Linked DNA regions of Homo sapiens: region 2 is linked to region 1. The links come from fine-mapping of genetic effects on gene expression. A gene starts in region 1. The other region holds a variant in brackets. All regions are shown on one strand. Distances are from middle to middle. Region 1 holds the start of MYO16-AS1 (MYO16 antisense RNA 1). Region 2 has its middle 22 kb from the start of LINC00370.

Evidence for each region. PIP is the estimated chance that this variant, and not a neighbour inherited with it, causes the effect.
Region 2: its variant is the best candidate, but not a certain one, in a credible set for the expression of MYO16-AS1 in whole blood (INTERVAL, PIP 0.59).

The regions. Positions count from the first base shown.
Region 1 is chr13:109,165,259-109,170,258 of GRCh38, reverse strand. It overlaps MYO16-AS1 (MYO16 antisense RNA 1), which reads left to right and starts at 2,956. Exons shown (of 3, transcript NR_047700.1): 1 at 2,956-3,240; 2 at 3,549-3,623. The region is part of intron 33 of MYO16 (myosin XVI); the gene reads right to left.
Region 2 is chr13:109,301,144-109,306,679 of GRCh38, reverse strand. No RefSeq gene overlaps it. Among named protein-coding and RNA genes, the nearest start is that of LINC00370, 22 kb to the right of the region's middle. The variant T/A (reference allele first, on the strand shown) is at 2,372.

The DNA.
Region 1 (5,000 bases):
ATTCACATATTCTGTCCAATTTTCTTTTCAGCTGTCTTTTGTTTTTAATTTAAATAAACGTTGAATATTAGCCTTTGTTGGGTAAATGTGTTAAAAATATTTTCTCCCTATTTATGTTTTTTTTTTTCTTTTTTCTTTATGGTTAAAACTTTTGTGTCTTGCTTAACAAGCCCTTCTTTCCTTTTATGAAGTAAGAAAGATACTCTCCTATTGTTTCTTCTATCCATTTTATGATTTGACATTTGACATACAGATCTATAATCTATCAGGAATTGTTGTGTGTATAGCATTAGGCAGAGTCGAGTTTCACTGTTTGCTCCACATGGATAGCAATCAATTATTCTTCCCCAGTGCTCTCACATGCCAATTTTGTCATAAATTAAGTGGCTAATTATGCAAGCTGGAGTAATATTATTTTCTTTCTCCTTCCTTCCTATTCTCTGAAAGCGTGTACGTGACATTGGAGTTATTTAATCCTTAGAATTTTGGAAACATTTAGTGGAGAAACCATCTGATTCTGGAATTTTCCTTGTAGGAAGGCATTCAATTACAAATTCCATTAATTTAACATTTACGGTGTTATTTAGCTTTCCTACTTCTTTTGTCCATTTTCGTTAGTTCTTTTTTTTTTAAGAATGTATTTGTTTATGTAAATTTGTAAATTTATCTTGGTGTAAAACTGTTTGTAATATTCTCTTACTATTTTTAATTTCAGCCAGATCTGTATTGATGTCCCCTTTTCAATCTAAAATCTGTTATTTGTGCCAATTTTCTCTATTTCTCTATCCCCTTGCAAGAAAATTTTCAATCTTATTGTTTTCAAAGATAATTTTTTAAAAGATAAACAACTTTCTCTTTCCTTCCTTTCTATCCCTTCACATTATTTTATTTGTTTTATATTTCAATAACTTATGTTCTTATTATCACTATCATATCTTTCCTTCCATTTTCATAGTATTTAGTTTTTGTTCTGTTTCTAATTTCTAGACCCTTTTAACACTCATCGTATTTGTTCTCTTGTGATGCAAAGGTTTGAAGCCATACATTTCCATTTCTTAAGAGATCTTTTGCAGTAACATGGATGGAACTGGAGGCCATTATCTTAGGTGAAATAACTAAGACACAGAAAGAAAAATGCTACATGTTCTCACTTATAAGTGGGAGCTAAATAACGTGTACACTTGGGCACAGAGTGTGGAATAATAGACACTGGAGACTCAGAAGGGTGGCAAGGTGGGAGGATGGGATGGAATGAAGCATATGAAACGACTTAATCAGGACAATATATACTATTCAGTTGATGTGGACACTAAAAGCCCAGCCATGGCCACGATGCCATACAGCCACATATTGACCATACCGACACTGTACCCGAGCCCCTTCCACTCATACACAAAAGACATTAGACATGTCCTAAAAGTTCTGTTGTCATATTTGCATTGTCATTAGTTAAAATATTTTGCTTTTTAATTTATTTTGTGATTTCTTCTTGAATACATTGATTACTTAGAGATTTTATTTTATCTTATTTTTTTAGACAAAGTCTGGCTCTGTCACCCAGGCTGGAGTGCAGTGGCGCGATCAGGGCTCACTGCAAACTCCGCCTCCTGGGTTCAAGCAATTCTCCTACCTCAGCTTTCCGAGTCGCCGGGATTAAAGGCATATACCACCAAGCCCAGCTGATTTTTGTATTTTTAGTAGAGATGGGGGTTTCACCATGTTGGCCAGGCTGGTCTCGAACTCCTGACCTCAGGTGATCTGCCTGCCTCGGCCTCCCAAAGTGCTGGGATTGCAGGCGTGAGCCACCGCGCCTGGCCTAGAGATGTAATTTTTGACGTTCAAATATATGAGCACTGTTTTTGCTGCTTTTTAATATTTGCACATTGTATCTTTTTCTTTTCTATCCCTTTACATTTACTCTTTCAGAATCCTTATGTTTTACTGTTTTCAGAAAACTTAGTTTTTAAAATATTCTGCTAATCATTTTTCATATAAGTTTACATTAAATAAGCCTTTTAAAGTTTATTATAATTAAATAAAGTTTATTTTCACATGTGTTTTCATATCTACTGTCTCAGAACTTTCTCCTTGCCCTATTTTTCCTATTTTATCCCCTTTTTGCATCTTTTGAGTTGACTTTTTATGATTTTATTTTTCTCTCTTTACTAGTTTGGATATTATCTACCCCACTAATATTCTTTCAGGGGTTACCTTTGAGGTTACAACTGGCAAGGTAGGTTTATCAGTGTATAATATTAAATATTATTTTACCCCTCCAAATTTTACTGCCTTTTTAGTTATTCTTTATTCTTTCCTTTATCTCTAAGCATTCTGAGTCTGTCAGTGTTTAATTCCTTTCATTTTTATTTTTTTTCCTAAAAATATCCTTAACTCCCTTTCATTATTACAGGAATTTTTGGGGGGCAGTTATTTTATTTGAGCATGTTAACTATGTTATTTCATTGTCTTTGGACTTCAGTTGCTACTTTTCGAAGATAGTACATATTTTTACCTCTAACTGCTTTTAAAATTAATTCTCGGTCTTTATTTTATAGGTGTTTTACTATGATACACCTAGGAAAGTTTTATGTATCCTACTTAGGCTTTGCAAAGGTTTCTGTTTCATTTTTACAAACGTTGGATTGATTATGGTGTAATTTAGAGACAGTGAGATTCACCTTTTTTAGACATACACATCTGTGCATCTGCAGACATGAGCACTCCAGGTTGTCTATAACACCACATGTCCTTCTGAACTTCATCTCCTGCCATTACGCCCAGCCTCCAGCAACCACTCAGCTGTTTTCTGTCTCCAGCTTTGCTTTTCCCCAAATGTTACATAAGCAGGATCACACTTAGTCTTTTGATTTTTTTTTTTTAACCTCAACACAATGCTTTAGCCATCCCTTTTTTTTATGATGCTCATTATAGTTGATCACTCTTATTTATTGCAGGCTTCATCCATGTGCTAGTTCAGCCTGTGAGATGCTGGTGAGCCCACCTCCAGGCACTCACGGACTCCCCACCCATTGAGTGTGGCCTGGATTTAGTGACTCAATCAAACGTGACAGAGTGCTGGGGTGTCATTTTCAAGACTGGGTTATGTGAAGACTGCAGCCTCCATCTGGGGTGCTCTCTCTTGGATTGCTTGCTCAGGGATGTGGGGAGAGCTGCTGTGCTGGGAGGCTGCCCATGTGAGTTGACTTGGATGTGAACCTTCTGTGGCCTGCCAATAGCCACGTGAGTGACCTTGAAAATGGATCAGCCTTCACTCAAGTCTCAAGATGACTGTGGTCTTGGCTGACAGCTTGATTGCTGTCTCATGGGGGACCTTAAACCAAAGGCACCCTGCTAAGCCACACACAGCTTCCTGGCCCACAGAAACTATGAAATAATAACCATTTCTTATATAAGCCTCCAAGTTTTGGGAGTAATATTTTGCACAGTGATGGATCACTAATACAAGCCAGTCATCAGTTGAAAGACACTGAATTTATTTCCAGTTTTATGTGATTATGAATAATGTCACCATATGCATTTGCATACAGGTGTTTGTGTGGACACTGCTGTCATTTCTCTTGGGAAGATACTGAGGAGTCAGATTGCTGGATCCCGTGAAGAATGTATGTTGAATGTTATAAAAATCTGCCAACTTAAATCTGTTTCCTGGTGCTCTTTCGTCAGCATTGGGAGATGCTCTAACATTTCTCACCAAGTCTTTCTTCTGCTCATGCGCTCCCTCTTCTTTCCCTAAGACTTCAATCATCCTCCTCATTGCCCTTTATATCTCTAAACCATTGTCTGGAGTTTCCATTCTTCCCTTTTGCTTCAATCTGTTTCATTCTGGGGATTTTCTGAGTTATCTTCCACTTCTCCAGTTATTTTTTATTTGTTTTGTTTTTAAACAACTATATCTAATTAAATTTAACTTTATCCTCTGTTGTACTCAATTTTATTACTGCATTTTCCAATTTCAGAATTTCCATTTGACGATTTCCTTATAGTTTCCTATTTCTGCTGAAATTCTCGTTGTTTTATTTCGTGGGGGGCTGAGTAAACATACTTATTTTAAGGCATGTGTCTTTGAATTCCAACCTTTTGAATCCCTGTGGACATATTGCAATTGGCTGCCGTCTCTGCTTTTAATTTTTTATCTTATTTTGTGTGCTCCTATGCCTGGTTATTTCTAACTGTGTTGGACTTTGCATTTGAAAAATGGTTTCTATGAATGTTTTGAAGCCTAGGATGCTATTACTGCCCTTTGGGGAAAATGTACACGTGTTTCTCCCAGGTACCTGTAGGCCTGGTTACATCTGGGCAACTCAACATGGTTCTTGGTTCTGGTTCACTCTGACTCTTGGGAAGAACACTTGAAGGCCCCACCCCAAGGCCTTGGTGGGGCCACGACTCAGTTTCTTGCCCTGTAATTTGAGAAGGCAGTCAGAAGCACAACTTGACTTCTTAGCTGCCTTCTCTGAACAATGTGGGTACCCTTATGTCCCCATGAGCCAAGCTTCAAGTGTGGGCTTCCTTGCTTCGGCTCACCTTGCACCCCACTCCCAGGTCTTCAACTGCTTCCCAGCATTTCAGCATCATGATGGTTCTCCCACGCCTCTAATTAGACTAAACAAACATGCTTTTCCCAGCCCTGCGGGAGGCCCTCAGGAATAGTTGGTCTGAGTCTTCCCATCAGTTATTCCCAGACGCCTTTGTCTTCTTTTATTTGTGAGAGAAAATACTTGCGTGATCCTCAGCTTTTGTACCTGCAATCAAGCCACTTTCTAAATGTGGCACTCATTGATGTACTTAAAATACCTGAAGCCAGTCTGGCACTTATCATTTCTTTAATATTATTTTCCTTCACATTTCTTAGTTTCCAGAATAATTTTTTAATTAAAAATATTGGTAGAGAATCTATTGCCTTCTTCTGCTCAGTATAAGACTAATTTTGGACCAGTTCTTTTAGATTAACACTCCATAAAATTTCGGAAAAGTCAACA
Region 2 (5,536 bases), 140 kb before region 1:
GGTGGCAAGTGACCTATTAAGGGTAAAACCCAGTTCATCCCATAGGACCTTCCTATGGCTAATTAGAAGTTTGTTCTTCTCCATCGTCCGCTCTCGTTCTCCGCGGAATCATTCTTATCACCATCTAAATGTGCAGTTATTTTCTGCATCCCATTGCTCCGACTGCTTGCTCATTTCTCTTCTCCCTCGACGGCAAAGCTCCCTACACTTTCTCTTCTGTTATCTCCCATTCCCCTCCATCCTGTCTCACACTTTCTTCCGCTCTCACTCTCCCTTCTGCTGAAGCCACTCTGGACCGGTGCTGATGGCTTCCATGTTGCTGCTCACAATGAGCAATTCGAAGCCTTCCTCTCTTTGAGTTTTCAGCAGTGCCTCACATATTTAATTTGTAAATCCATGAAAAACCAAAAAGACTTTCTGTGTTTTCTTCTGCTTCTCAGTTGCTGCATCTTGGTCTCCTTCGATGATTCCTCCACATCACTACCAACTTCCCAGCACTGGAGCATGCCAGGATTCTGGGCCTGGTTCCCTTCTTTATCCTCATGAATTCCCCTGGTGACTTCAGGCACTCCTTTAAATAACACCCCTATTCTGAGGACTCCCAAATGCCTATCTTCAGTTCAAAACTCCCCCTAAACCACAGATGCATATTTCCTTCAATATTTACACTTGAACGTCTAAGAAGTACCTCCAGTGCAGCATGTGCAAAACAGAACCACTGCCTCTTAACATGAGCACACACACACACACACACACACAGGCACAGGCACACAAATGCACACATGTCCTTTCCTTGCTTTGGTGTTTTCTATCATCTTTCTAGTTTCTCTAACAATAATTCTTGGAGTCATCTATGACTTTTTTTTTTGTCACATCATCTTTCTAATCCACCAGGAAGTTGTTGTGGCTCTGTCTTCAAAACGTATTCAGAATCTGACTTTACCAATTCCATTGGCTGGTCTCGGCCACCATCAGGGCACACAGAGATTATTGCACTCGCCTTCTAACTGGCTCCCAGCATTAATTCTCATGTTCCTACAGTACCTTTTCAACACAGTGATCCCTCTAAATACTTGTCCGCACACTTTCACCATTTCTTTGCTCAAAACCCTTCAATGAGTCTTCATTCGTCTCTGAAACCAAAATTCCTACAAAGGTCTTCAAAGCTTTCCTGATCTGAGCTCAGCTACTTCTCTGATATCTTCTGTCTCCTCTTGTCCTAAACTTCCTGGCTGCCTTGCAGTGCTTCAAGCCCAGCAGAAGTCTCCCTCTCCTAAATGATTGCACCTGCTTCTCTCTCTGCTTGGAACTCCTCCCTAGTATCACCTTTTCACTGTGGCCATGCACACTATTTACAGCTGCAGCTCTCCCCTCCCTGCCATGACTATCACTATCACCCCCTGCCACATCGTTTCACTTTTCTCTATGGCATTTATCACCATCTGAAAACCATCTGAAAAACCGTGAGTTTCCTTCACATCTCAGTTCTATTTGATTCCTGAGTTGGGATACCGAGTTTGAGTAGAAGGCGATAATACATTATCCGAATTTGCTTGGTGCTGGAATTTTGGACAGCAAGTAACAAGAATTTGGATAACAAGAGATTTATTCAAACGTGTACGTGTATGTGTTTAGTTCCCAAGTTTGAAGAGCTGGAGATACTTTAAAAACTTTGCGTATTTTTTAAAATTTCTCTCCCCAGATCTGAAAAACACATGCATGGATGATGCCTCTTTTACTTCCTGCAATGTCCTTTAGAACAGGCTTGCAGAAAGTAATCATTCAATAGGTATTTATTGGTGGACCAAAGGAAGAAAGAGAAAAAATAAGAGAGATAAACTGAACATCGATGGAAGCAGAGGCTGGAGGTGAAGAGGAATCATATTCAGAATAAATAATATCTTCTATCCTTTACAACCCTGAAGTGCTGAGATGCAATCATTCCAGCTCTATTATTTCCGAAAGCAAATCGATCAGATTTCTTTTGTTTCCGCTGTGTGGCCCCCAGATCAGTAGAAAGCACCACTGTCTGTGGCCGCAAGTCATCCTTTGAACAGCACCACACTCAGATAGGCTCTTGTATCACGAATCCTGTCTCCAGAAGGTACACGAGTTCTTCTGCTGTCCCCTTGAAGCCGTGGTGTCTACATGCCCTCGGTCCTCCATAAGAGATAACTGCTCTTGGTTTTGCAATACTCAAAGAAAGCGTGAAGCCTCTGCAGGGGTCTCTCCTTCTCTGGGTGATGATAGAGGCTGCAGTCCCAGCTACCAGATGTGCTGGCATTGGCAGCAGCTGCAGAAATGGAGTTTCTGTGATGTGGCTCACAGCATCATTGGAAGAAGCTTAGCCGCTGTCCTCTTAAGGCAGCCC[T/A]AGTGATGATCTCTTGAGCTACCTAATTTTCTTTAATAAAGTTTTTTTTTTTTTTTGTATAAAATAGCCAGAGGAGATTTCGGTCTTACTTTCCTACTTGCAGTTTAATATCCTATCTTGAAGGGAGAATTTTTGTCCCTGGGTTGCTTCTTCTTTCCTCTGGTGGAAAGAAAGAGGGACAGCGTTCCTGGAAGTTAGGTATTTCCATTCTGCTTTGAAACTTTCAAAGTTGAAATGCTTTAATTCCTTTGTGAATTATTGAACTGCAAAACAAGTAATCTAAATGAGGCTTTCTCCACCTCGGTGTTATTGACATCTTAGGCAAATGATTCCTTGTGGTGGGCTGCGCTGTGCCTAGCAGGTGTTGGGCAGCATCCCTGGACTCTACCTGCTGGATGCGATGAGCACCCTCCCCATCTATGACAACCAAAAATGTCCCCAGATGCTCCCAAACCCCCCCCAGTGGACAACATCACTCCTAGTTGAGAAACACTGATCTAGAGATGGTTGAACGTGTTCTACTGGGCATTTTATTGTCAGGACAGCAACTCAGAGTAAAGAGACTGTACCAAGTGGTTTGTTCCTTAAATATGAAATTCCCAAAGCATACTCCAACACATTATTTTTGCCATATTAAAAGTAAAACAAAATACTTGCTTTGAATCATAAGAATCCTAAATTTTTTCATTGTTTAGTTAGTCACCCCTCTGTTAAAAGGGATGCCCCACTTTAAGATTATACGTCATTTCTCGAAATGACTTAGTAGGTTGTCTAAAGCTAAAATCTGTAGTAATATATTTGGAAAATAAATAACTGGAATAGGCAGTTATAGTTTAGTTTTCCCACCTTCCCCAAATTAAATTCAATTATGTGGCTTTCTATCAACATATTCTTACTGGGGCCATAACACTCTGCTATTTTCACGTTTATGTTGTGCTTCTTGATATTGATCCCTCCACATTTCACATTCACTACAAGTTTTACTAAAGCCATTTATTTTTAATAACAAGGTAGATGAGCTATTTATAGCAGTCTTATTTTTGAGAATACAATACACACATATTACAAATATAGTAGACCATAACCAGAATTTTGATTCATGGAAAACCTGTCATTAACAGAATAGAATTACTAATTTACGACGTGGCTGATGAGACAGGCGATGGCCACCAGCAATTTTTGAAGGTAAAAAACTTAATAAAACTATTGTTAATATTATAAATAATTGATTATCATTTATTACAAAATAATTATCTTTAAACAATGATCACTGTTAACAAGTGATTGCTTTAGGATTATTGCTTAATTAGTATTAAACAGCATAGTACATATGGCATATGATATTCATTGTCTATTATTATTTTTACAAGCACAGATGGCTTAGTACAATCAGGAAGAATAATGGAGAGTAATCTTTTTTTAATGTAATTACCACATGAATATGTTGAATGATTGTTTTGTTTTGCTAACATTATAATATTATTTTAATTAAGATGCCAAGGACTGTAATTTTTCCCACCTAACTAGACCAAAAGGAAAAGAAACAGATATATTCAAGATGTCTTTAAAGCTTTATTATAAAAATATTTCTGTTTTATAAATATTTGTCACAGTAGTATATCTAACCTTGCTTAAATCTTAGCTCTACAAATGCATTTAAAAACTCTTACTATTCAATGACAGTTCAGTGTCTCATAAAACTTTAATGGTTTGTAGCAAAATGATAAAACTATGTATTCTAGATGTGTGTATAGTTTTGGAAGTAATGGTTCTATGAAAGAGGGTAGCTGTGATGACTGACTATGTAGAAGATAATTTAGATTTCTGTAGGTCTTTATTAAACTAATATTGATTACTCACAAAGATAACATGATTCCACATTGTCTTTACAAATACAGCACTTATAATGTAGAAATACAGTTGTTTTATTTTTTTACAGGAGAATTTCTTTACCATTGATACCTCCCTTTCATATCCCCTGAAACCCATCTTTGATTTTCAGTGCTAAAGCCCAATATGAGCTTTGTCTAGATCCAAGCAAAAACACATGTGAGCAGACAATAAACCTGTGCAGGCTTGGAGTCTGGGACTCTTAGGAGAAATCAAGACTCCCAGGAGAGCTGACTCAAAGCCAAGCCCCTGCTGAGGCCAGGGGGACTGAGGGACTTACTTCAACAATCCAGGGTAGATCAGTGCCATCTTTCACTCAAAGTGGCCTTATGCAAAACACAAATGGTCGGCAGACTTCCTGAGGTTGGTAGGAGGGTTCATTTGATCAAAACAGAGTAGCTGGCTGGAAGTCTGGCCCTTACGTCTGGTCAGAATTATATTGTTTTTGGCCACAGATGGTTGCAAGATGGTGGCACATATGGTGATTTCCGAGTCTAGCACCACGAGTATTGTCATCTCCTAATAGGAGGCTCAGATCGCAAGCAAGCCTTTCATGGCTCCCAGAGCAGGTTCTGAACAGATGCCAGGAGCTCTCCTGGGGGAGGCACATGATACCAATCCCAGTCACACAGGAGAGGGGCTGCTCAGCAGGAGCCTGCAGTCCCAAGACAGCTGCTGCTGGAACCCAGAGTCTGATTTCCAGTGCACAGTTGCATTCTTAACACAGATTTTGGAGCTTTTTTACCCTATGTGTGCACATGCACTTACTAAGGCAAAGCCCAGTTGCCAATGACCCATATTCTCTGGAGGAATCTCTCATTCTCTATTAGAGGCAAGTACATATGTCACCTTCAAAAGAGGGGAGAACGCAGGGTTGTGGTGATCCTCGTGGCCTGTTACCAGCATGTTAACACCTGCACAACTCACTGCCAGTTCCCTGGAGCTAGCCACCAGCTCACCATCAATCCAGCTCCCCAGAGGCGGGGGGCCAGAGATCCTACAAGAATCACGTCTCTCTCACCTGAGCTGAGATGGTCAAGGCTCAGCTTTTAAAACAAGGTGGAGCTCACTTCTTTTCCAAATTATAGCTTCTTCTGTCCAGATTTATTTAAATTATCTCATGACTTTAGTTCAGTTTCTTGACAATAACTATAGACAAGCCACCAGAATTCACCTGCTCCTGTTCCTTCGTCTGCACTACCATGAGAATAAACTTTCAAAAGTACACCTCAAAAGGCATCATGATCTTGCCCACAGTTCTCTAGTGGATCTCTA